2 separate regions of the Homo sapiens genome follow, and region 2 is linked to region 1. The links come from fine-mapping of genetic effects on gene expression. A gene starts in region 1. The other region holds a variant in brackets. All regions are shown on one strand. Distances are from middle to middle. Region 1 holds the start of YOD1 (YOD1 deubiquitinase). Region 2 holds the start of C4BPA (complement component 4 binding protein alpha).

Region 1 (12,714 bases):
GCTGGCTCCTCCCGGCCCATCTTGCTGCAGAGGAGAGGTGGGAGAAGGACCTGAACTGCTGCCAGCCACTGTCCCGGGGCCAAAAACCACACTGAGGTCATCTGGGATAGCTCAGGCTCTGCCGGCTCCAATGAGGGAAGGCCCTGCACAGGATGGGGGAAAAAGGAAGAAACACCTTCACCTCCCACTTCCCACCACTGCTTCCCAGAAGGTGCCCTGCAAGTTGCGGCTGCCCCTCTGCCTGGTACTAAGGGACCTTGTAAGATTAAGAAACAGTTCTGTAAAATGGAGGTACTTGGATGGGAAATATGACTTTCATTTTTTGAGAAATAAATGTAGAAAGATCTCAATGGAGAAGTGGGAGGAGGGGCCCAGGTAGAGAACCACCCTCGGAAGGAAAAGTTTCCTAAGGGTGTTTGGCAAGAAGTACTCAGAGTGACCCTAGTGGTGAGGAGGGAGAAATGGAGGCCCAGACCTGGGGTCAGAGGGCTTGGCTTTTAGTCCTTTACCCACTGCACACATGGAAAATTCCTGAGTCTCAGCAGGAGCCCCTCCAAGGTAGGTAAAGGAGCAACATAAGTGATTTTCATCTGTGTTCAAATAGGGAGCTTAAAGGCAAGCAAACTGTACCCTGAAGCCTCAGCTGGCATTAATCCCTGATCACTGGCCCCTAACAAGCAGATAGCCTCTGCATGGGATCAGCTGTCTCAGGTTTAAGTAGTAAAATCCCCTGAGTCTTCACTTTCTCCAGCTCGGCTCAATGCCTGCTCTCAATCCCCCATGATTTGGCTCATTACCTGCACTTCTAGGCCTGCTTTGTCCGCACCTTCCAGCCCATTAGGCACTTCCCCCGAAGGTCCTATTACCCTCCCTAAAGTTTAAAATGAACTGATACTTGGGAGCTGCTCTGAAGGCAACCAGGGAACCAGCTGCTCTTGTTTACCCATGTGGACAGAGAATGCTAAGAACAACAACAACAAAAAACTGCATCCACTGGGACCTCCCAAGAGCCCTCCAGCAACGCACCTCTCGCCTCTGTCCAGAATACACTTAAGCACACCTGCTACAACCAGGGCTTCTCATTTTCTGGAGTACAAAACTAAACCACACTTCCTATCTCAAATTACCACACTGGCAAAAGTAGGAACATTCTGTCCTGCCTGTTAAAAAACAAAACCACCTGCCACTGCCACCTGATTAATTTCAGAGACAATGTAACCCATCTCTTGATAGACAATGGAAAACTGTTTCAATCCTGAAATTCTCTTCCACCTTCTTTAAGCCAGGTTCAACTCCTTTTCTTAAACTTAAACTCATTTTCCTTTCATAAACTTGCTTAGATAAAATGAAGACTTGAGGCTGGGCGCAGTGGCTTATGCCTGTAATCCTCACTTTGGGAGGCCAAGTTGGGTGGATCGCCTGAACCCAGGAGTTTGAGACCAGCCTTGGCAACATGGTGAAACACTATCTCTACTAAAAATATAAAAATTAGCCAGTCTCATAACCCGGTCTCAAAATAAATAAATAAATGTATTTTAAAAAAAAGATTTACAAAAAAAATGAGGACTTGATAACTTCCCTCGTGTAAATGGAAAAACTCAAGCCTGGAGAAATTAAGAGCTTTGCCCATGGTCCCACAATAGACAGTCAAGGTCAGGGTTCTGACCAGTCTCCTGATCTCATGACTGCCCATTCAGTCCCAGCTGCCAGCTCCTGTGCCTCATGTCAGCACTTGACAAAGGTTCCCTCACGGTAAACACAACTTGCTCTCCATTCTAATCCTGAAGGATGGTCTAGGAGAGCAATGGTTCCCAGCCTTTTCAGGACCCAGGACGTCTTCTTTTATTGGCTCTAAAGAGGCCTAATATTTAGAAATATGCTGCCCATAAAGCATGTTTCATTAGTGACATTTTATCTTTATTCATCAGAAGTCAGAACTGCTGATTATCTCCTGCCAGTTGACAGGCATGAAATAACCAAGTTCGTATAACTACGGTCAAACACTAAGAAAGCTGATGTTTCAGTTAACCACTATGGCTATAGTTGATGCTGCCCAATTTCCATCAAATATCTTAAAATATTGAAAACAGCTTACAATATAGAACTTCTTAGGAGAGCAAATTAGTAATACTGATGAACATTTCCAATGTGTCTATCTTTTCTATTATTTCTGTAGGAAAAGTTGCTGTCACAAATGTGCAAAGGTGTACGTGTAAGAATGGTCACTGCAGCACTCTTTGTGATGATGAAAAACTGGAAACAATTTAAATACCTATCCGTGGAAAGCTGGCATATCCATACAATGCAGAATGAGGTAAATCTGCATTTATCAACATTAAAAGGATGTCCACAAGACAGTAACTTATTTAAAAAAATAAAAAAGGAAATGGCAGCTGAACAGAATATGAACAATATGAACCTACCTTTATTAATAGGATATACCAGAATAAGATGTCTAAAAGAATCAAATTTGGAAGAAACAGGAGTCTTTTACTTTTCGCTTTCTAAATCCTTTCTGTAGTTTGAATTTTTTATGAACATACATTGCTTTTGTATTTAGGGAAAGGTACATGGAAGAATTTGTCTGTTCCAGAACTACTCAAAAAAAAAAATTAAAAAGAAAAAAAAAAAGCATGTAGATTTCTCCATTTCTGCTTTTTTTTTTTCCCCCTGAGATGGAGTCTCACTTTGTCACCCAGGCTGTAGTGCAGTGGCGCGATCTCGGCTCACTGCAAGCTCCGCCTCCCGGGTTCAAGCCATTCTCCTGCCTCAGCTTCCCGAGTAGCTGGGACTACAGGCGCCCGCCACCATGCCCGGCTAGTTTTTTTTTTTTTTTTTTTTTTTTTTGTAGTTTTTTTGTATTTTTAGTAGAGACGGGGTTTCACCATGTTAGCCAGGATGGTCTTGATCTCCTGACCTCATGATCCACCCTCCTCGGCCTCCCAAAGTGCTGGGATTACAGGCGTGAGCCACCACACCCGGCCCTCCATTTCTGCTTTCATAAGCCCTGAAACCAGTCCTCTGAGCACCGTAAAGGCACCTCGGCCAGTAGCCCCTCTTCGCCCCATCCCTGGAGCAGTTGAAGTCCCAGTAATGCTCCTTCGGAGGTTTTGGCTCCCTAAAGTCATTCTTCAGCCCTGAAATCCTCAAGCCCAGTCACTTCCCGGAGTCAAAGTTAGCCAACACAGGTGTAATGAGCAGCAAGGGAACAACGGTTAAGCTATTAATAAAGCAGCCGCTGATGTGAACACTAAGCTGCCAGGTGAACCAGCTCCAAAGTACAGCTCTATAGCAGAGGAAAAGGAAGTAAGTTAACACATATACTCATAACTTTATTTTCTCCTTTGACTATGTCTGCAACAGTCTCACAGCCCGACTGTGACGTGAGGAGAGAATAGGGTAAATAAATCACAGTGGCTTTAGGACACCTTCTTCTTCTTAGAGAAGAAAAAGGCATTTAGAGAAACTAGAGTATGGAAAAAAAGAGATTAGAGCCCAGAGCAGGAATTAGAGTCTAGAAGACAGGAAAGAAACCAGGGATTACTGCTTCCCTGACTTGAAAGCCCTCAAGGCAAAGGAACTACAGAAGAGTTAGGAAAGCAGGTAGAAGAGATTCCTACCATGGAGAAAAAAGCAAAGCTAGAAGGACTGACACATGGCATCGTGTAGTCAGAGACTCCCACAATTATCGATCCTGCCCCCCAGCCCCAGCTCTCTTTTGGATCAAGCACCCTAGTAACATTAGTGTACCTCCCTGTAAGAGGTGCATCCTAGATCCCCAAATCTGGGTTACAATATTGTCAAATAAGAGAAGAAAACATTTTTTACTGAAAAAATAATTATTCACAGCCCTCTTTTAAATAGTGAGCTTCCAATACAGCATTTGAGTATGATTCAATATAAACATTTCAGGAATAAATACAACAGGCAGATTGAGTCACCTGTGAAAAATAACACACATTAGATATATGCCCAACACTCTTCTAAGCGCCTTCCTACATTTAGTCATTTAATCCTCACATCACTCTTGGGGGAGACACTGTTAGTATTCCCACTTTTAAAAGGAGTAAACTGAGGCATGGAGAGAACAAGCAACTTGTTCAAGAGCTAAGAAGTCATAAACCCGGGATTCAAACTCAGGCAGTCTGACTCCAGAGGCTATACTCAAACATCATGCTATACTAGTTATCTCTCATGGGGTATTCTGCCCTTAGCACCTGGCTTCTTGCCCTGGCAGAGAAAAGAGACCCTAATTGTAGACCCTAACTCTGCCAACCCCAGTATCACATCCAGCCAGCTGCTTCTGTCCAGCAGGCTCCATGGGTGCTAGGTGAAGAGAGATTATCATTGTCAATCATGAAACTGACAAGGGCATGACATCAAGGTCGAGGCTCTGGGAAAAGCTTTGAACATGAGATAATTCCTGGTCTCATGCTGGTCGGCTGTTTCCACCTGCTGAGATATATATATTCCTTGACTAACTGGCTATATATATATATATATATATAACCACTGAAGTGAGAAGAACTGACTGACAGGATTCTGCAGGAATGGTGCCATCCAGAAGCAGAGGCAAGAGTTAGCATTCCTTGAAGTTCCCCAAAATATGTGGGGAACAGAGTCCCAGATCTTTTGGGAAGCTATGCAGCCTATGATGCTTAGAAATACAGATGCTTGGGGACAGGAAATGATGCTTCATCTCCTCGCAAACCCTCCTGCTGTTTCTATCTAAAAGACAGGCATAGAAATGAAAATGCTCATGTGAAAGCTGTCCTCAAAAAAATGAACCTATAGGGAAAATAGTTTACAAAGTACAAAGGCTAAACCTGTGAGAAAGTAAGATGCCCAAGACACTGTGAGAAGCCAAGTGTCAGGGCTCATTCCCCTCAGGCCTGTAGGAAGGAAACCAAGCAGCACTGGCTCCCATCTGCAATTTCTACAATGAGCAGCACTCTCCCAAAACTTAGCCCAACAGATAAAGCTGGTAACATTACCAGCTCCAAGTAATTCCTGCACCTGCAACTGTGCCTTACTCATTGTGTGTACAATAATGTTAGTTCTAACTTCCATCAGCAAGCCAGTGTGCAAACATCCCAGGAGACAGAGATTCAGTTTAAGAAAGCAGTAAGAAACTGCTGGACTACACCAGTAGTCAAGCCCCAAGAACAGACATTTCACTAAGTCTACTTGTTTTAGACAGGACATTCTACCCTGGAGACTTTGCATTAAATTTCCATGTCAAATAATTATTTATCACTCCCACCAAGCAGCAGAGTCCAGGATTATAACTATATTCCCAAGATAAAATGCTGAGAGAGAGCAGTCCCTCCTCTCTGCCAGAACTCACAACATTTCTTCTCTGACATTCGAAGATTTGGGGTTTTGGTTTCATAGCTGTTGTTGTTCTGTTCTGAGGAAGATGCCCCAGACATGGCAGCTCTTCAGATGTCTGAAACAGAGAAGTAGAATGTAAAAAAGGGAAGGGGAAGAAAGAAGACATAACTTAAAAAAAGTCAGTGCATTGGATCCGTGTGGTATAAGTAAAAACACCCTGGGCCAAGAGGCAGGTTCAGTCCTGTTTCTCCCAGTTAGCAGCTACTTCTCTAGCCCTCTGTTTCCTCACCTATAAAAAGAGTTGCACTAGAACCTTACATTTATCTTCTGACTTACGAGTCTACATTTACAGACGTTATCTTCTTCAGTCCTAACAATAATCTTGTAATTAGGCAGATTTTGCCACCATTATTTCTTCTCATTTTACAGATTGAAAATTTGAGATTCATCGAATTAAGTGTCCTGCTCAAGGTTTCATGACCTCAGATTCTAGTTTTAAGAATCTGGGCAGAGTAGTGGCAGCAGTTGGGGTGGGGTGGGTTATGTATAGACGAAGTACATTACCAGGAAATTAACTCCAATCTAACGGTAGGACTCAGTTTTGCAAACAGTGAGGCCGGGCACGGTGGCTCACTCCTGGAATTCCAACACTTGGGGAGGCTGAGGCGGGCGGATCAAGAGGTCAAGAGATAGAGACCATCCTGGCCAACATGGTGAAACCTCGTCTCTACTAAAAATACAAAAATTAGCCGGGCCTGGTGGTGCGCGCCTGTAGTCCCAGCTACTCGGGAGGCTGAGGCAGGAGAATCGCTTGAACCCGGGAGGCGGAGGTTGCAGTGAGCCAAGATCCCGCCACTGCACTCCAGCCTAGCGACAGAGCGAGACTCTGTCAAAAAAAAAAAAAAAAAAAATGAAAAATGAAAAAGAAAGAAAGAAAAGAAAAAAGTGAGGGACGTGGGAAAATCTCGAACATATTCCCTGAAGGAAAAACAGTAACTGGACCCCAAGACAGCCCTAGCACGTCGTCATTTCTCCTCTAGTGCATTCTCAAGCCCTGCTCCGCACCCTCTCCCTAGTTACCCCCGGGACTCAGTCTAAAGAACGCCGGAGCGCTGAGGTGGTAAATGACTTCCCCAAGGTCACCTCAGGAAGAGGGGTAAGCCCTGATTCAAACTGGAGTGGGAAAGTCCTGAGCTCATGCCCCCAATTCAGACAACAGGGGGCTGGTGAGGACGGAAGATCCTGCGCCTTCAAGAGCCTTACACGATTCCTTTACTGACCACACAAATCCTCCAACCCAAACACAGACTGTGGCTCCCGGTCCCAGAACGTCCGCGCTGCCTGCCATGCCTGGGGACCAGCACCTCTCCCCGCACTTCATCCGGGGGCACGCAGCCCCCACATCCCGCCCCGCTAGACCCTACCCGGGGCTGCGCAGCTGTGGCTCACCCTACGATCTCTCCTAAGATCCCTCCCTGCCTTGGCCCCGGCGCCTGCCCTGTAACGCGACCGAACCGAGCCGACAGCTTGTGGCCGGGACCGGCGCTACAGTCGCCGGCAAATCATGTGAGCCCGTCTGGCCCCGCCCCCTCGCGCGTAGGTCCTCACCTGGAGAGAATCATCCACCAATCGGGCGCCTGCAGGACCCAGGGGGCGGGGCAGGGTCGCAATCGCCTAACTGGCTCGGGAAGGCGGCTGGAAGTCGGAACCAGAGAGATCACAAGCTCCTGAGTTTCCCAGCGCCGAGGAGCCTGGTGGCACTGTTGCTTGGTAACTAATAGGGCTGGGGGCGGTGTTAATAAAAAGCTTGACTTTTTTCTGACTCTCGCGAGAGTAGACTATTCGGTAGGCGTCTTGAGAGCGGGTGTGCCGGGTGACGAGAAAATGCTGCAAAGATTAACGCTCTCATTCCTGAATCCCAGCAGAACCTCATTAGATCCATAAATGGGAACGTAAGCTTTAAAGATGTTTTTGCTAGAATAAACTACCACAACACTTGAGCTAATTATGCCTTAGGGTGTATACATACCCGGCTCCACAGGTCAGACGCTGTGACCTAAGAAAATCAACCACTCTCATCGTTGAACCAGAAGCTTCCCTGGACCCACCCATACACCCCATTGGAGTTTTTTTTGTTTTGGTTTGGTTTGGTTTTTGTTTTTTGAGATGGAGTTTTGCTCTTGTTGCCCAGGCTGGAGTGCAATGGCACGACCTTGGCACCGCAACTTTTGCCTCCCGTGTTCAAGCGATTCTCCTGCCTCCCAGTATCTAGAATTAAAGGCATGGACCACCACGCCCAGCTAATTTTGTATTTTTAGTAGAGACGGGGTTTCTCCATATTGATGAGGCTGGTCTCGAACTTCTGACCTCGGGTGATTCACCCGCCTCGGCCTCCCAAAGTGCTGGGATTACAGGTGTGAGCCACTGCGCCCGGCCACCCCGGTGGACTTCTAACCACTCCTACCTTCCCTCCTACCTACCCCCTAACCCAGGCTGTATCATCCGTTGCAGTCGTCTTGAAGAACCAAGGAGGAAAATTGCACCAGCAAAAAAAAATTGAGTCATGAAAGATGTGAAAAGATGGAAACATTACATATAATTTATTCAGAAGCAAAGTCTTTTACAGTGGAGGTGAGTTTGCACCAAGTGAACTACACTTTTCATAGTTGCCCCAGCGGGCCCGTTTGATGCTTGATAAACCCACTCTTGGCAAGTGGGACTTGCTGTCTGAATCCCGGCTGGATAAAGAACAATGAGTATGGATTTCTTGGAAAAGAGAGATATAAATTCAGGGATGTCTTTATTCCTCCTTCGCCTGGGAATTAAACTAATTCTTCCAAAAGTTCAAACAGTTATCTCCTCTTTAAGGCTTTTTACAACTCCCAGAGTGCTCTAGTTGCCCTCTCTATGTCTATACAACTCTGTCTTTATTCATTCAGCCAGTATTTGTTGAACACTTTTTATTTGCGAGGCACAGTCCTGGGTTCTAGGCATACACGTTTGAAAAGGTACAGATAATCTAGCATTATCACGTTGCTTTGAAATTCAGTGGCTGTGTGTCTCACACCCCACCCTGTCTCCCAACTGCAATGAATACTTGTTACAATGAAGGCAGGAATGAAGTCTTCATATTTGTATGCCCAGGAACTGAACTGGAATCTGATGACACGCGTTACACGACTCCTCCTTACACTGCCACCACCTGAATGAGGCAGCTGCCCTGGGCCCAGATGCTGACCTCATACTGTGCTTTCTGAAGTGGCAAATAGACGTTTTCAAGCACAGTCCCAGGGAGGCAGAAAGGCCAGTCTTTTGGCCCCTGGAACCCCAATGAGTCAATGTTTAATGCAGCCACGAGTCTAGTCACAAGTGTGATTGTTTTTGACTGGTCCTTTGACTCACTGACCATTCCTGGCATTCGTTTGCGTTGTGAACTATGATTCTGTTTCTCCTGGTGTAGTCTGGGTGTAGTGTGGAAGCCCCAATTTAATAATTTCCGACCTCACTAAGTGCAAGGTCACATTCCAATCTCCAGACCTTCATTCAGGAACTCCTTCCCCCGCCCTCTTTTCTTGAGCATATATGCTACCCACGCGGAGGGCACCTCACTCGCTCTATAGGTAGCAAGACCCGTTGTCCTTTAGGAATACGGAGGTTTACATCTTCGTTCTGAGGGTGGGGGAAAAATCAGTTGTCACTTTAAAAGAGTTCGCGCTTGCTAAGGTACTAAGGCAGAAGCCGCACCGAAGCGTCGCGATAACTGCAACCACCCGCAACTTCTCGCGATGTTTGGCCCCGCTAAAGGTCGCCATTTTGGAGTCCACCCGGCGCCTGGTTTCCCCGGCGGCGTCTCCCAACAGGCTGCCGGGACCAAAGCTGGCCCCGCGGGTGCCTGGCCTGTGGGCAGCCGGACCGACACGATGTGGCGGCTCCGCTGCAAGGCCAAGGACGGCACCCATGTTTTGCAGGGGCTGTCCAGCCGGACCCGGGTGCGGGAACTCCAGGGCCAAATTGCCGCCATCACCGGGATCGCCCCCGGCGGTCAGCGAATCCTCGTCGGATACCCTCCCGAGTGCCTGGATCTCAGCAATGGGGATACCATTCTGGAAGACTTGCCCATCCAATCTGGTAAGGAATCAGGGCTGGGGCCAGGGAAAGTCCCGGGAGGATGGAGAGGGGCGTGAGAGAGAACAAAACACCAGTCAAGGCAAGGTGGCTGTGAGTCGGCGGGGGGGCTTTGAGGCCAGGGGCGAGGATAGATCAAAGAACAGAGAATGCTGACGGGGGCCAGGGCAAGTGTCTAGCAACTCCTTGTCTTGACACAGGGTTGAAAGGGAACCCAAAGCCTTGAAGACCCCCTTCCCCATTCCGCTTTCTGGTCGGCTTTGAAACTATCCCATTTTGTTTTCCCTCGGCGTCCACAAAAATATAAAGTAGGGCCTATTTTCTCTGTCCTTATGTCTCTTTTTCCCTATATCACCGATGAGATCTCAAGGGTGCAGGATTTTTTTTTTCTTGATTCATTTTTGCAGTCCCCTTCGTAGATACTTCGTTTGACAGGCATACTCATTTTCGAGTTAGCTTTTAAAACACCCACTGAAAGCTCTTTCAATTTCTAACCAGCAGCAGTTATTTCTGTGCCATATCAAAACTTGAACATCAGTGTTTATAATTAAAAGCTTTCAGTTGCTGTATCAAGGATGTTGTAAACACTCTAGAGTAGATAAGTTTCCGGAGAAGGAGAACCCCCTAGCGGCCTACTCTGTAGTGAGCACCTTCTGTAAAATACTGTATAAGGAAAGGAAATTTTGTTTTTGAAATGTATCTTTTTAGGTAAGCTTGAAGTTGTTTACTCCAGACCCCTTCACTAAATTGGGATGCAACCTCAAGTGTTTTTTGTTCTTTTTTCATCTTTATGAAAATTCAGTGAACAAAGATTCTTACTGGTAACTTACTTGCAAAACTGTATTCTCCTTAGTAACCCCAGTTTATGCTTTAACTCCTTCAGTTTGTAATTTACAGACTTGGCTAGAGAACACTCGGTTTCTTCTGTAATTTCTTTGCAGATCGGGATTTGTTTTATTTTTAACAGGTGACATGCTGATCATTGAAGAAGACCAAACCAGGCCCAGAAGTTCACCTGCATTTACTAAACGTGGTGCTTCTAGTTACGTCAGGGAAACTTTGCCTGTGCTTACCAGAACCGTGGTCCCAGCAGACAACTCTTGCCTCTTTACTAGTGTGTACTATGTCGTCGAAGGAGGAGTCTTGAATCCAGCTTGTGCCCCTGAGATGAGACGCCTCATAGCACAAATTGTAGCAAGCGATCCAGACTTCTATAGTGAGGCAATACTGGGAAAAACAAATCAAGAGTACTGTGACTGGATCAAAAGGGATGACACTTGGGGAGGAGCAATAGAGATATCGATTTTGTCCAAGTTTTACCAATGTGAAATATGTGTAGTGGATACACAGACAGTAAGAATTGATCGTTTTGGGGAAGATGCAGGATATACCAAAAGGGTTCTGCTTATTTATGATGGCATCCACTATGATCCACTTCAGCGTAACTTCCCTGATCCAGATACACCTCCTCTGACCATTTTCTCCTCTAATGATGATATTGTTCTTGTACAAGCACTGGAATTAGCAGATGAAGCTAGAAGAAGGAGACAGTTTACTGATGTCAACCGCTTCACCCTGAGATGCATGGTATGTCAGAAAGGATTAACTGGACAAGCAGAAGCAAGGGAACATGCCAAGGAGACAGGCCATACCAACTTTGGAGAAGTGTGACCTATGCATGAATGAGGGTTGAAGCCTACTACCTCACACATCCAGAAGGCTCTGGGTTTTCCAATAAGCTATGGTAACCCTAAAGAACAAAGGATACAATGCTTGAACCATCCTTTTAACTTAAAACCACTAAGACACTGAAATTCCTTGTTAAGATTAAAATTAGTGTGCAAGTTTACAGATGTGTGTCTACAGTGGTAAACTGTACATACATGCCTCTTTCTGCTGGAGTGACAGAATAGGTGATCCTTGCCACCTACTGACACTGACCTGAAGGTTGAGATTGAGTATTATAAACTAGCACCCAGCAGCTTTAACTTGTAGAAGAAAGCATCACATTTTGGGTAATGTGGAAGGCCTCCTGTGAGTCCACTGGGCATACGATTGAGATTGAGTATTATAAACTAGCACCCAGCAGCTTTAACTTGTAGAAGAAAGCATCACATTTTGGGTAATGTGGAAGGCCTCCTGTGAGTCCACTGGACATTTACCACAGTGTCTCCAGTAACTGAGTCTTTTTAAAAACTCTGAATGAGTTAAGTTTCTAAATTATGAATTGATTCATCAAATGAAGATACTCAGAATTGTCCAAACTGATTTTATATTGCAATTTGGTAGACATTATAAATGTGTGCTTAACCACTGATAAGTACATCACAAGCAATTTTTACAGGGATGAGTCTCATCCTTGAGAATGTTATCACAAAACAGGAACTGATTGTGCCCTGTTTAAGATCTCTAGCATATAAAACGTAGAATGTATGAGGGAATAGGTGCCTGAGCAGCTTCCTGAAGCTTTAAAAGACCGTTGGCCTCGTGTTTTAATGCAATTCATGTATTGGTCTTTGTCACATTGGATAACATTTTAAAGTTAAGCAGGGTACTTTTTTAATTGAAATTCCTTGAAATTCGAGTCCTCAGTTTTTTCTTCATTTGCGTAAAGTTTATCGGGGGGAATTTAATTTTCTCAGCTTTTTGTTAAGAGCACTTCCTCCAAAAAATTTTTTTCAAGTAATAATGCTCTGCTTTGGGTTGGTTTTTGTAAGATTTTTTGCACACCTAAAGAGTGTTTGCTTTTGTGCTAGCCTTATCCCTCCACTAAAGTTATTTTAAATAATTTCACATTTCTGCAAATTAGCACTTTGCTTATCTGCAATCTTTTACTTTGATTTTTGAAGTTTTAAAGCAATTGGAGTAATACTGTTGAATGAACTAGTTTCACTTCCAAAATAGAAAAAATTGTAAATCCTTGCCTTATGCAGCTTTCTCAGAATTCTGCTTCTTCCTAGTACTAGATGTGTAGCCATTTGCTTAGTGGACTAATCCGCAAGGCACACCCTCTAAAACTTAGCTTCACTACAAGATCTTCCAGATAAAAGTTTTCTACCTCTTTTCTTAATTATTCTGATCAGGGATGCTAAATTATAATTTGTTATGTATTATCTCACATAATGTGAAGAGGCTTAATGTGAAGTTTTGTTATTTTGGTCTCTTTTTTATTAAGTATCTCACTTAGAAATTCAGTGGTATACTTTAAAGCACTTGGATCTTTTTCAGCATATCTGCCTAGCAAATGTTTTAAAA
Region 2 (12,714 bases), 51 kb before region 1:
TGTGTTCACAGACTTTGTACTGAATGAATCCAGGTGGTCTAGAGAGGTTGGGAGGAGCCAGGACCAACATTCTGGGACTTCATACTTCCCCTTTCTACTCAGTTTCCCCCTCTTTTTTCCCATTATCCTCCTTCCTAACTCTATGCTCCTCTCTGCCCTCACAATCTTGTGAAGCTGGAGACAGCTGAGAGCCAGGCAGGTTGCATATCATGAAAACCACCTCACTCATCATCTGTGAAATTCATAAAATGTGACAAATTTCTCCCACCCAATAAGATATGTTATGAACTATGAAAACTATGGGAAAAAGTTTCTTCAATTTTTGACAATGAGTAGATTTGTTGTGTTTATTGAATTTCAGTGAAATTGAAGAAAGAGATTAAAAACACCAGTGGGGTGGCAAAATAGAATTGACTATGAAAAATCAAAAGGATAAGAGTAGAAAGTGGAAATTTCCCCTAGGAATTGTTGCAGTTGTTATTACATTCACAAGAAAAATATATATGTTGAATATGTTCAGAAAAATATTCATGACTATATTTACAAAAATACAACCATAAGATTAAATCATTAGCTTCAAGAAGTTGAACAAAAATATCTTAAATGCCACTAAAATATGTATTCATTAGCTACATTCAAAAAGGATATATTTATACTCATTGAATACTCAAAATGATTTCTTTTTCTTTTTCTTTTCTAAAATTGTAATAGAGATGTGATCTTACTATGTTGCCCAGGCTGGTCTCAAACTCCTGGCCTCAAGCAATTCTCCCGCCTCGGCCTCCCAAAGTGCTGGGATTACAGGCATAAGCCACCATGCCTGGCCTCCAAAATGAATGTTTCTTGAAACAATGTTAGATAAATTGATACTTTGATAAATTCAGCAAATTTATTTCTATGAACTGATCCTTCAAGTACTGGCATTCACTCAATTGGCTTTGATGACTAACTTTTCGGTATTGTGGTCTGACCCCTTAGGCTCCAGCTATCCTGGACAACCAGAATTCCTTACCATTCCCAGCACTTTCCTATCTCCCATTCCTGTCCACATCATCTACCCTCTCTCTTTTTCCTCTTTAATTCCTACTCATTCTGCCAGTCCCTTCTCCAGCATTCCCTCCTATCCAAGCAAGCCTCCACATACCAAGTACAATTTTGTATTTATAACTCTGATTCGGACTTGGTCTGTAACTCACATCTGAAGTCTGCCTTCACCACTAAACCACAAGATCCTTGAAATGACAGAGTATGCTCCCATTTATTTCTGCCCCACAATAGTACCTAGCCTGCGCCTCATGAAGTTAAAGTGCTCACAAAATGTGCATTGAATTTAAATCCAAAAGCTCCTAGTGATAACGTGTGTTCCAAAGAAAAGTAGTACTGTGCCATATCAGTGTCTCCCCTTACAGTGTATGCTTTGTTAAGGACTGATTTTACCTGATTTTAAAGCAAGGCAAACACCTGTATTTTAATGAGAACTGGCCCAAATAATTTTACTCTAGGCTCTTCCATTCTTAAACTGAAGTCATCATATCATCAACTAGTCAAGGGAGGACAGTGAAGGAGGGAAGCAGTAGGCAAAAACTGGTTCTCCTCCTTCCACAGGTTATGACAGGAGATACAGACAAATGCAGACCCTACACTGTGATGAGGAAGTTATTTCACTCCCTTTACTTCATCCTCACACCTAGGCCATGGCCACAGAGCTGGGGACAGAGGAGGACAGTGTGGCCAAGACCTTGGGCATGGGCTCTGGAGTCACACCCAGAACATGTGAGTTGGCGTCCTGGCTCTACCACATGGGAACCGAGTCCCATGGACAAAACACTCAGTTCCTCTAAGCCTCAGTTTCCTTTATTATAAAATAAGAAGGATAACTGTAATTATATCTCGGAATTTCTGAGAGGGGCTTGGCATGGTGTGTGGACAGCACATAGTAAACATTCAAAAGAAATTATAGGGAAGAGTTTCATAGAATTGGCATTGGAATGTCACTCTGTCAGAAGCCAAACTCCTGGATGTCAAAACATTGTCATCATAATGATTTAAAATTGCAATAAATGGTTGCATCACCAGGGACTTTAATTACACCCCAGTGCAGAGGAGCATCCACTGAACTTCCGGCTAGAAGCCCTGGATCTGGTCTCCACTGTGGCCTTTGGTACAGTGAGATCTAATGTGTCATGCACAGCAGAGGAATGCTGGGGCCTCTGGGGCTGTCCTGGGGCTTTGTCTTCCCTTGCCCTCAACTATCTTCCTGAAAGGAAGTCATCCACATCCATAACTTTAATCATCATACCTGAATCACCCACAGGTCAGACGCGGTAGCTCACGCCTGTAATCCCAGCACTTTGGGAGGCTGAGGCGGGCAGATCACGAGGTCAGGAGTTCAAGACCGGCCTGACTAACATGGTGAAACCCCGTCTCTACTAAAAATACAAAAATTAGCTGGGTGTGGTGGTGCACGCCTGTAATCCCAGCTACTCAGGAGGCTGAGGCAGGTTAATCGCTTGAACCCGGGAGGCAAAGGTTACAGTGATCCGAGATCACACCACTGCACTCCAGCCTGGGCGACAGAGAGACTCCGTCTCAAAAATAAATAAATAAATAAAATGAATCACCCACAGACCTCTGGGCCTAATTGTCTCTGGTTCATGCAAAAACTTCCATGCTCCATAAATTCAATTGTTAATAATTATTTTATTCTGTCTTATTCCTTCCTCCGTGTAAGTTTTAAGCTATTCAGGCTTGTCTTCTTTACTCTGGTTGCTAACTAGTTAAATTCTGGTGCTCAAATTACGTCTTTCTAAAGGCAATGAAATAAATCTCTGTAAAATAAGGAGGAACTCTTTTCCTCTGCAGCTGCAAAAAAGCAGATGATAATCTACGTGACAAAACTGACCTTGCAAATGTTTTTTCTAACAAAGGAGTCGTTCCTGGATTTTAGAGATTGCTCTGCCACATGACAGTAATTTTAACCTCAGAAAAGTGTAATTCTGACTGGTTATCTTAGTGAATTTTTTTTTCTGGAATAATATTTAAATAAACATTTCTGTTTACTGAAAGTTATAAGTGCTTGTGAGTTTTCCTTGCCAAATCCAGAAATAATTATTACACTTTCCTCTTTATCTGCAAACTTGAAAGTAAACTAAAACTTTTTGACTCTGTTAGATTTCTCATTTAAGCAAATAATAATAATAATAATAATTTAAGTTAAAATTCCCAAGGTTCAAATCAATATTTCCAATCACTTCATTTGTATCTCCCAGGCACCTTGAATTTAACATGTTTCAAACTAAATTCACTATGTTCCTCCAACACTACTTAATATCTGTGCTTTCTGTCTCAGTGAAGGTGACAATCTCCACCCAGCCTCCCAGACTAGAAATCCAAGTCATTATTGCCTCCTCTGTCTCACCTCCTTGCACTATTCAGAGTCGTCAAGTCCTATCAAGTTGGTCATAGCAGCTGCACCAGAATCTGCCACTCTCTCCAACACTCCACTTCCATAGTCCAGGTTTAGGTTCCTATAATTCCCTTCCCCTCACCCTAGACCACTGCAAAAGCCTTCAAACATTTATAAGCCAGCTTCCATGTTGATGCCATTATGTCCCTAAAAAGCAATTTATGTGTTGTTACTCTGCTTAAAAACATTCATGGTTCCCAGTTTCCATAGGTTCCCCTATCTGTCCCAGTTTTCCCATCATTTCTCACTTAGAACACCATGCTTCAGTCTCAAGGAGGCACTTACCCTTCCCCAAAAACATTCTGGATTTCTTTTTTGAGACAGGGTCTCACTCTGTGTCACCCAAGCTGGAGTGAAGTGGTGCAATCACAGCTCACTGCAGCCTCAACCTCCTGGACTCGAATGATGCTCCCACCTCAGTCTCCCCAGTAGCTGGGACCACAGGAGCGTGCCATCACACCCAGCTAATTTTTTAATTTTTTGTAAAGACAGGGGTCTCACTATGTTGCTCAAGCTGGTCTTGAACTCCTGGCCTCAAGTGAACCTCCCACCTCGGCCTCCCAAAGTGCTGGAATTATAGGCGTGAGCCACCATACAAAGCCAGGATTTTTTTAAAAAACACCTGCAAGCATTTGCAGTTAATGTCTCCCATGCATTAATGCTCTTACCTCCAACTTCTCCTTTACTCACTATTCCTTTACTCACTATTCAGATCAAATGTCACCTCCTTGGTGAAGCATTGCCTGACTTCATCATGAAATGCCAGTGTTTTCTGTTCTTCTAGTACTTGGCTAATACCTTAATTGTAGCATTGTTTTGTATCCTAACTATCTATTTGCTTTTGCCTCCCGAAATACATTGTGAATTCCTTGAAGACAAGGAAGGTGTTTATTCAACTTTCCATCTCTAACGTGGTATTGTAATTGGTCTATATAACCCCGTGACTCCTTTGTTAAAAAAAAACATTTGCAAGGTCAGTTTTATCACGCAGATTATCATCTGCTTTTTTGCAGATGCAGAGGAAGAGAAAAGAGTTCCTCCTTATTTCGCAGAGATTTCTTTCACTGCCTTTAGAAAGACCTAATTTGAGCACCAGAATTTAACTAGCTTAAAACTTACACAGAGGAGGCCGGGTGCAGTGGCTCACGCCTGTAATCCCAGCACTTTGGGAGGCCAAGGCAGGCAGATCACGAGGTCAGGAAGTCGAGACCATCCTGGCTAACACGGTGAAACCCTGTCTCTACTAAAAAGACAAAAAATTAGCTGGGCGTGGTGGCGGGCGCCTGTAGTCCCAGCTACTCGGGAGGCTGAGGCAGGAGAATGGCCTGTGAACCCGGGAGACGGAGCTTGCAGTGAGCAGAGATTGCACCACCGCACTCCAGTCTGGGCAACAAAGCGAGACTCCGTTTCAAAAAAAAAAAAAAAACTTACACGGAGGAAGGAATAAGACAGAATAAACAATAATAAATCTAAAAGGAATGAAAGTCAATTTAATTTTATCTTTAGAATGAGAATGACTGTCTCACTGAGGACCAAATGAAATAATGTGTGTGAAATGCTTTGTCAGTTTTGAAGAGAGATAATACAGTGACTAGACTTCCCTAACAAACCATCAGGATGCATCCTAACTCTTCTCCAACTACGGCATTTGCAGTTCACCATAACTACTCCTGGTGGTCCCTCAGCAGAAACCAGCTGGCCACAGAGTATGGGAATGGAGGCTAGAACTTGCGAGCTGAGAAGACACAAGTTGGAGTTCCAGCAATACCACAGTCTAAGTCTGTGATCTTGAAGAAGCTATATCAGCTTCTTGGATATCAGTTCCCTCCATCTCTAAAATAATGACATTAAACCTAGATGAACAAATTCTGCAATTCTGTAACTGCTCACTGAAAAGCTGAGACTACTCTAGCCAACTTTCATATTTCAAGGACTTCACCTTTTAAATTCCTGCAGAAATGGAACCAACTCAAGAACTTTAGTCAGCATGGCGGGTCCCTTGTGAAAAATAATATCAGCACTTAGCAATGCAGTGCAATTTGAGAGTCACTGGAAAAATCTTTAGTCCTCAAATTTCTCCTTCCATGAGAAGTTACTTTTTAAGTTAATATTTATTTTGTCTAACTTCCCCCTTTTAAAATGCAGATACCTTGTGAAAGGATAGTATTTTTCTCCAGTCTCGGGCTGAGTGTCTTCTTCCTTATACCTGGGCTCTCAATTATATCACTTACAAACTCCAGAAAGAACTGGCTCCCACACTTTCCCCACCCTTCCTAGAATCTCTTTTTTTTTTCTTTTTTTTTTTTTTTTGAGGTGGAGTTTCACTCTTGTTGCCCAGACTAGAGTGCAATGGCACGATCTCAGCTCACCCCAACCTCTGCCTCCCTGGTTCAAATGATCCTCCTGCCTCAGCCTCCCAAGTAGCTGGGATTACAGACATGTGCCACCATGCCTGGCTAATTTTGTAATTTTAGTAGAGACAGGGGTTCTCCATGTTGGTCAGGCTGGTCTCGAACTCCCGACCTCAGGTGATCCGCCAGCCTCGGCCTCCCAAAGTGCTGGGATTACAGGAGTGAGCCACCGTACCTGGCCAAATCTCTTTATTTTTCTATCAGCCCCTTTATTCTGTGCTCATACTACATTCAAACATATCTCTAAGCTTAATGCCAACCTTCTTTGATGCTTCTGCCTCTTCTGTAGTCTACTTTTTATTCTTTTGGTGTTACCATATTTAGAGATAGAATAGGAATCAGCAAAGAGACAAGTGGTTGAAGAATTAAAATGAGGACCAGAATGGTACTGTATCCTGGCCAACCAAGGAAGAAGAGAATTTCAAGAAGGAAGGGTTATCAGCATCGTCAAATTCAGAAAGTAAAGAAGATGAGGACGACTAAGACTGCTAGCTTCAGAAACCAACTGGAGGCTGGCCAGTGTCCT[CCTT/T]ATTACCAAATCTAAACATCTTTGCTGTCAGTGGTGGAGGAGATTTGGAGTGGTTAATCAAATCTCAAAATAGAAATGGCCCCAGTTTTCAGAATGTAGACTAAGAAAAGCAAGCTTCCTGTGAACCCTTTGAAAAGTCTGATTGACCCCTTGCCTCAACTCTGATGTGGGAAGGTGGTGAAAGATCAACAAACCAACACATCTGTCTTTTAGATACAGTAACAAGAGCAACACCTTACACCTCTTCTTCTTTAGCTTATTTTATTAGAATGCAATATTATTCCTCCATTTATAATTTTTAAAACTTGAGGTTCAGATAGGGTTTAAAGTACGTCTCAAGTCTTACATCCCCCTAATACAGTGCTCCTGAAAAGATTTCTGCTGAAAACACCTCCAAGCTTTTGTCTCTGTTTTATCCTTCTAATCCTGCACTCCTTAAAGGGCCAAACCACCAGCCTTTCCTCCAAGCTTCCCCAAGGGTTTAGTAGTCCACCGACCTTTGGTAGTTGAGGAAGAGCAGAAGACTCTATGATGATATCTGGGATAGTTTCTCAAAGAAGAAAACTGCCTTGATCTATGTAGTCCTGGTTCCTCCCCAGATCAGAGTTTATCATAATACCCTGAAGTTGACTGGTAATTGCTCCACCAAAGAGTCCCTGAATTTCAGCCATGTGGTTGGCTGGTCAAGGACGGTTGATGGAAATAGATGGGCAGAAACTTTTGACGGGCCCAATGAATGATTAACAGCAGAAATAAAGCAGCACTGTTTACCTAAGCTCCTTCCTCTTTGCTAGTCCTCATTCTTCGTAACATGTCGCAATCGTTTATTTTCTCCTCTGCCAACCATTTCCCCTAAGTGGAAAGGTAATTTGAATTTGAAGCCAGAATTCTTTTTTCTTTTCATAAACACATAAGGGTTATGGCAAGACACAGTCCAGCTAGCCTGGAAACCTTGGATACTGCGAGGTTCAGAGAGCCTCCGCAAAAATGATCCACTTTCCATGACACTAGGTCCAGTATGCTTTCCTGGAGTTTGAAAACTGATATTCTTGCCCAGAGCTCGTCTCTATCCCACCCCAAGGAATTACAAAAGGTGGGGAATTTATCAAACATGCATTGGGTTTCCACTATGTGCTGAGTTATCTAGAACGTATTTGGAGTTCAGCAAATGTTAACTGCTACTACATGTCAGGCACCAGAGGGCCTCCAAAAATTGATCTATCCAGTGCGCTCAGAAGAACGCAATGAAGGACCGGCCATGTTTCCTCTCGCATAGATCTAAAAAGACCACAAGCACTTACATAGTCCAATTAAGCTACTAATCCTCAAGGTTAAGATTTGTGTGCTCAGAAGATTGCTATTAAAAGGCAATTCTTTCTGAGAACTTCACTTTTTCTGTAATAAATACTGAAAGTCCCAGAAGAGTTTCAGAAAAGGAACTAAACTACAACAGGTTGAGTTAATCAAGGAAGTTTCTACAGAAGATGTGAGATTTGGATAAAAGGTAGAAATTATTAGATAAAAGTGGTAAGGATATTAGATGTAAAGAAACCATGCGCTAGGTCACCAAGGTGAGACACTGATTTGACCAGAATGAAGATAGAGGAGGATTCCAGATTGCACAGTCTTGAGACTAAATTGGAAGAAATATCACCTTTAAAGCTGCTATTTCTTTAAAGTACCGTTTTCCAATGTATTGAAGTCCTTTCGTTTACTTTCCACAGTGACTCTTGCAGATTTTTCTCTCCAGGTCACCAAATTGTCACATTCCCTCTCAGCAGATGCTCTTACCTCCTACTTTACTAAAAATCATTCTACCTTAGCTTCATCAATGTCAAATTTTCCCTCCTATTCACTCCTCATTCCGAGGAGAATTGTTTCTTCTTTTCCTGCCTCATTTTCAATGCATCTCTCATCCTGAAATGTCCCTTCAATTTTGCCAATACCTCAAATTCCACCTTTCTTCTTTAGTGTGATGCTGAACTTCTCAAAGGTGTGACTTGTTCTACCTGCCTGTTCTTTCTCATTCATCACTCCACCTGTTGCTTTCCCATCTGGCTTCTACCACTCTTCTACTGACATGTCTCTCTGAGGCACGCCCTTAGGTCCAAGTCCAAAATATCTTTAATTCATTTCTTAGGATCTGTCTGCAGCCTTTGTCACTGCTGATCATTTCCTTTCTGAAACTCTCTTCTCCTTTGGCTTCCATGACACTAAACTTACCTGATTCCCTTAACTTAACTAATTTCTCTTTCTTAGTTACTGTTACCTTCTCTTCCTCCTTCTCATTCCTAAATATAGATATATCTCAGGCTCTTCTTTTTTTAAAAAAATTATCTTCGCAATTTTAATGATCTTGCCTTCTGTCACAGCTTTAACTATTACCAGTAAGAAGACTAGCCAGCACTACATTATTATTTCTGATTACTCTCCGAAACTCAAGACTTACTTTCTTAGGTTTTGTTTTTTTTTTCCCCCCACTGGACATCTTGCAAGCACTTCACCCTCAGCACATCCAAAGAGGAATTTCTCATTTCCGGCCAACAAGCTTCACTTTCTGACCCCAGCTTTTTCTGACCTCTGGTTCTCGGGAATAAAATTTCAGATTCACTTTTGAACTCTTCCTCTCCCTCACCCTTCAATGTTTGATTAGTTGACAGGTTGTTTTGATACAAGTTTTCAATATCTCTCGTGTCTGCTGCTGCTTTTTCATTTCTGCTGCCACCAAACCAGTTCAGGTTGATAATGCCTCCCATATGGACTATTGTAGGAGTCCTTTCGTTGGTTTCTCTTAGTTCTTTTCCCTCATCAACCAATACTACAACCAACATTGTGAGAGAAATCTTTCTTTATGTTCTGTCCTTATTACTTCATTGTTTGCAAGGCTTCCATGTCTTCATGGTCTGACTGCCAAAAAACAAATGTATATTCTCTGCCTACCAAAAACAAGTGTATATTCTCTAGCACGTCATTCAAAAGCCTCCATAAACTGGCTTTGACTTATCTTTCCAGCCACCTTCTCTCTCACCAATTTCCATGCTTCATCTAGGCCAGTCCAGGCTATGTGCAAGTTCCTAAACATATCCCATTTTTTCTGCCTCTGTGCAATGCCTTCTAAAATTATTATTAGAAATTCATTTTACAACATTAAAAAGTTTTAAGAGAATAAACACTTATAATTTCATATTCTAAGACAAATGTTTTTATCTGTGCCTATTATTGTCTAATCCTTTCCCACAAGAATAAAGGTTTTACATAAATGCAATCATAAGCCCTTGTTATTAAATATTCTATTTTTACTTAAGATTGTATTTTTAAGATTTTCTACTTCCTCATATTTATCACCATATAGGTCTGCATTACATTTAAAGTACCATAATTTATTCAAAATTTTCCTAAGAGTAGACATTTCAAATGCTCATAAGATCCTCCTAGATAGATAATATGTACAAATAAGAAGTAGCTTCAATTTCAAATCATTTTCCTCCAGTTAGATTAATCCTAGGAATGAATTTACTTGGTTAAAAATCTTATTATTGGCCAGGCGTGGTAGCTCATGCTTGTAATCCCAGCACTTTGGGAGGCCGAGGCGGGCAGATCACCTGAGGTCAGGAGTTCGAGACAGCCTGACCAACATAGGGAAACCCCGTCTCTACTAAAAATACAAAATTAGCCGGGCATGGTGGCGCATGCCTGTAATCCCAGCTACTCAGGAGGCAGAGGCAGGAGAATCGCTTGAACCCAGGAGGCAGAGGTTGTGGTGAGCTGAGATCACGCCATTGCACTCTAGCCTGGGCAACAAGAGCGAAACTCCATCTCAAAAAAAAAAATTGGTTTTAAATCTTATTATTGTCTTACTCCATTTCTCAAATATTCTTTCCAACTGGAATGAGCTCTTTAATCTTTGTCTCTAATTCTCACTTACTTTTGAAGGCCCAAATAACTGTGACTTCTTCCTTGACAATATTCCTGCCTCCTCCTCCCAGACAGAAGTGAACCTCCTCTCATCTGAGCTCTCATAGCCCACTGTTGTCTGAAAATGTTTAGTTCATTCTAACCACTCTAAAATAATGCTACGTGTGTACATGTCTTGTGCCTATTAGTAGACTCTGGGGTACTCAAGAGTCCATCTCTTATTCCCCTTCATAACTTTACCTAGCGATTTTCCATTATTTCAAGCTGGCTTATATATTTTGGTTGCACTTTATCTAGATATCCTACGTGTTTCAGGTAGCAGTCAGGACGAGAGGTGGGAGAAGCTTGTCATGCCAGCTCAGTATGACATTTTGATTGAAAGCCTTAGGATTCTTATTTCTTCTACCCTCTAAAAAAGGAGAATTGTAAGTAAAAAATAATATAAAATTTTTGTTTCTAAAAAAGAGAAGAAATATATTCACTTGTGTTGCACCATCTCTAATTTATCATGCAGGACCAGGTTTCATTCAAGAGGCAGTAAGCAATTTTCCTGCAGCTTTGGAAACCTGTTTCCGTAAGCCAGATGTGGGCAAGACTGGGAGGAGAATTTGGGTCCTAGCTCTCCTTCTGTCCCAGTGGGTCATTTTTAAGGATGTAACTATTCTAAGCATCTTTTCCAAAATGGAAGGTTAATTTTTGCCTCATAAGTTGCGGTTAGTTTTGGTTTCATAATTCATGGTCTCATGTTAAAATACGAGTTACTCTCTCGGCTGAGATCAGAGTTTTCCATTCTCCTTACAGACTGGAAATTAAGCCCTCTATTCTCCAATAATATGTTGCTAATTCTGGCCTTAGACAACCACTACATTTGGCCTTTTCACATTCTGAGAACAACACACACACACACACACACACACATACACACACACACACACACACACACACACACACACACACATGGTGCATTATACAACTGCTGTTGGCAATTTCAGCCCAATAAGAGGTAAATCTGAAACCAATTTCAGAACCAAGAAGAAAATTTATTCATAGGTTTATTTCTATTACATCTGCTCAGCTGTAGTGTTACAACAATTTTGCCTTCAACTCAGCTTTCTTCAGCTCCAGAGAATATTTTAGCTCCTCCATTGTCATGCCACTTTCCTTTAATTGTTGCATAAAGTTCTCCATGGCTTCGCAGAGGTTCTTACTCTCCTGAAAGGCAAGCTGAAGAAAGAAAATTTTTCACAAGTTACAACATAAGGACTGAGACCCAGCTATATACTCTGAAGCCAGTGAGCAGCAGTTAGCTCTCTGAATGGGGGCTCAGAACCAGGCTAGCTTAAGTAAAGATTTGGGTTTTCAACATGGCAAATCATTTATATTTTCTGGCTTAAATATACTTATTAATATTATCCCAGTAATAAATATGAACTAAAAGAAGAATCTCAATGAAAATGGATCTGTTCAGTGTTGTTTGTTTAGTTTTGGAGCCTAGAAGAATTTTAGAGACTTTTCCAATTCTCACGCATTGTGCTTATGTGCTTTGCTCTATAACAGGGATCCCCAACCCCAGGGCCACAGACCGGTACCGGTCCACGGACTATTAGGAACTGGGCCACACAGCAGAAAGTGAGCAGCGGGCAGGCAAGCAAAGCTTCAGCTGTATTTATAGCCACTCTGCTTTGCTCACATTGCTGCCTGAGCTCCACCTCCTGTCAGGTCAGAGGTGGCATTAGATTCTCATAAGAGCGTGAAACCTATTGTGAACTGCTCATGCGAGGGATCTAGGTTGACCCCTCTTTATGAGAGTCTAATGCCTGGTAACCTGTCACTGTCTCCCATCACTCCCAGATGAGAATCTAGTGCCTGATGATCTGTCACTGTCTCCCATCACTCCCAGATGAGAATCTAATGCCTGATGATCTGTCACTGTCTCCCATCACTCCCAGATGAGAATCTAATGCCTGATGATCTGTCACTGTCTCCCATCACTCCCAGATGAGAATCTAATGCCTGATGATCTGTCACTGTCTCCCATCACTCCCAGATGAGATTCTAATGCCTGATGATCTGTCACTGTCTCTCATCATTCCCAGATGAGATTCTAATGTGTGATGATCTGTCACTGTCTCTCATCACTCCCAGATGAGAATCTAATGCCTGATGATCTGTCACTGTTTCCCAACACTCCCAGATGAGAATCTAATGCCTGATAATCTGTCAGTTTCCCATCACTCCTAACTAGATGGGACCCTCTAGTTGCAGGAAAACAAGCTCAGGGCTCCCACTGATTCTACATTATGGTGAGTTATATAATCATTTTATTATATATTACAATGTAATAATAATAGAAATAAAGTACACAATAAATGTAATGCATCTGAATCATCCCC

What was found. PIP is the estimated chance that this variant, and not a neighbour inherited with it, causes the effect.
Region 2: its variant is fine-mapped to the expression of YOD1 in whole blood (TOPMed, PIP 0.99).

What each region holds. Positions count from the first base shown.
Region 1 is chr1:207,047,436-207,060,149 of GRCh38, reverse strand. YOD1 (YOD1 deubiquitinase) reads left to right here and starts at 8,942. Exons shown (of 2, transcript NM_018566.4): 1 at 8,942-9,462; 2 at 10,427-12,714. The coding sequence starts at 9,120. The coding sequence ends at 11,130. It overlaps PFKFB2 (6-phosphofructo-2-kinase/fructose-2,6-biphosphatase 2), which reads right to left and starts at 6,875. Exons shown (of 15, transcript NM_006212.2): 1 at 6,784-6,875; 2 at 5,348-5,449. The coding sequence starts at 5,432. RefSeq lists enhancers at 6,945-7,584, 8,808-9,378.
Region 2 is chr1:207,098,620-207,111,333 of GRCh38, reverse strand. C4BPA (complement component 4 binding protein alpha) reads right to left here and starts at 7,101. Exons shown (of 12, transcript NM_000715.4): 1 at 6,904-7,101. C4BPB (complement component 4 binding protein beta) reads right to left here. Exons shown (of 7, transcript NM_001017365.3): 7 at 11,341-11,545. The coding sequence ends at 11,405. The variant CCTT/T (reference allele first, on the strand shown) is at 6,404.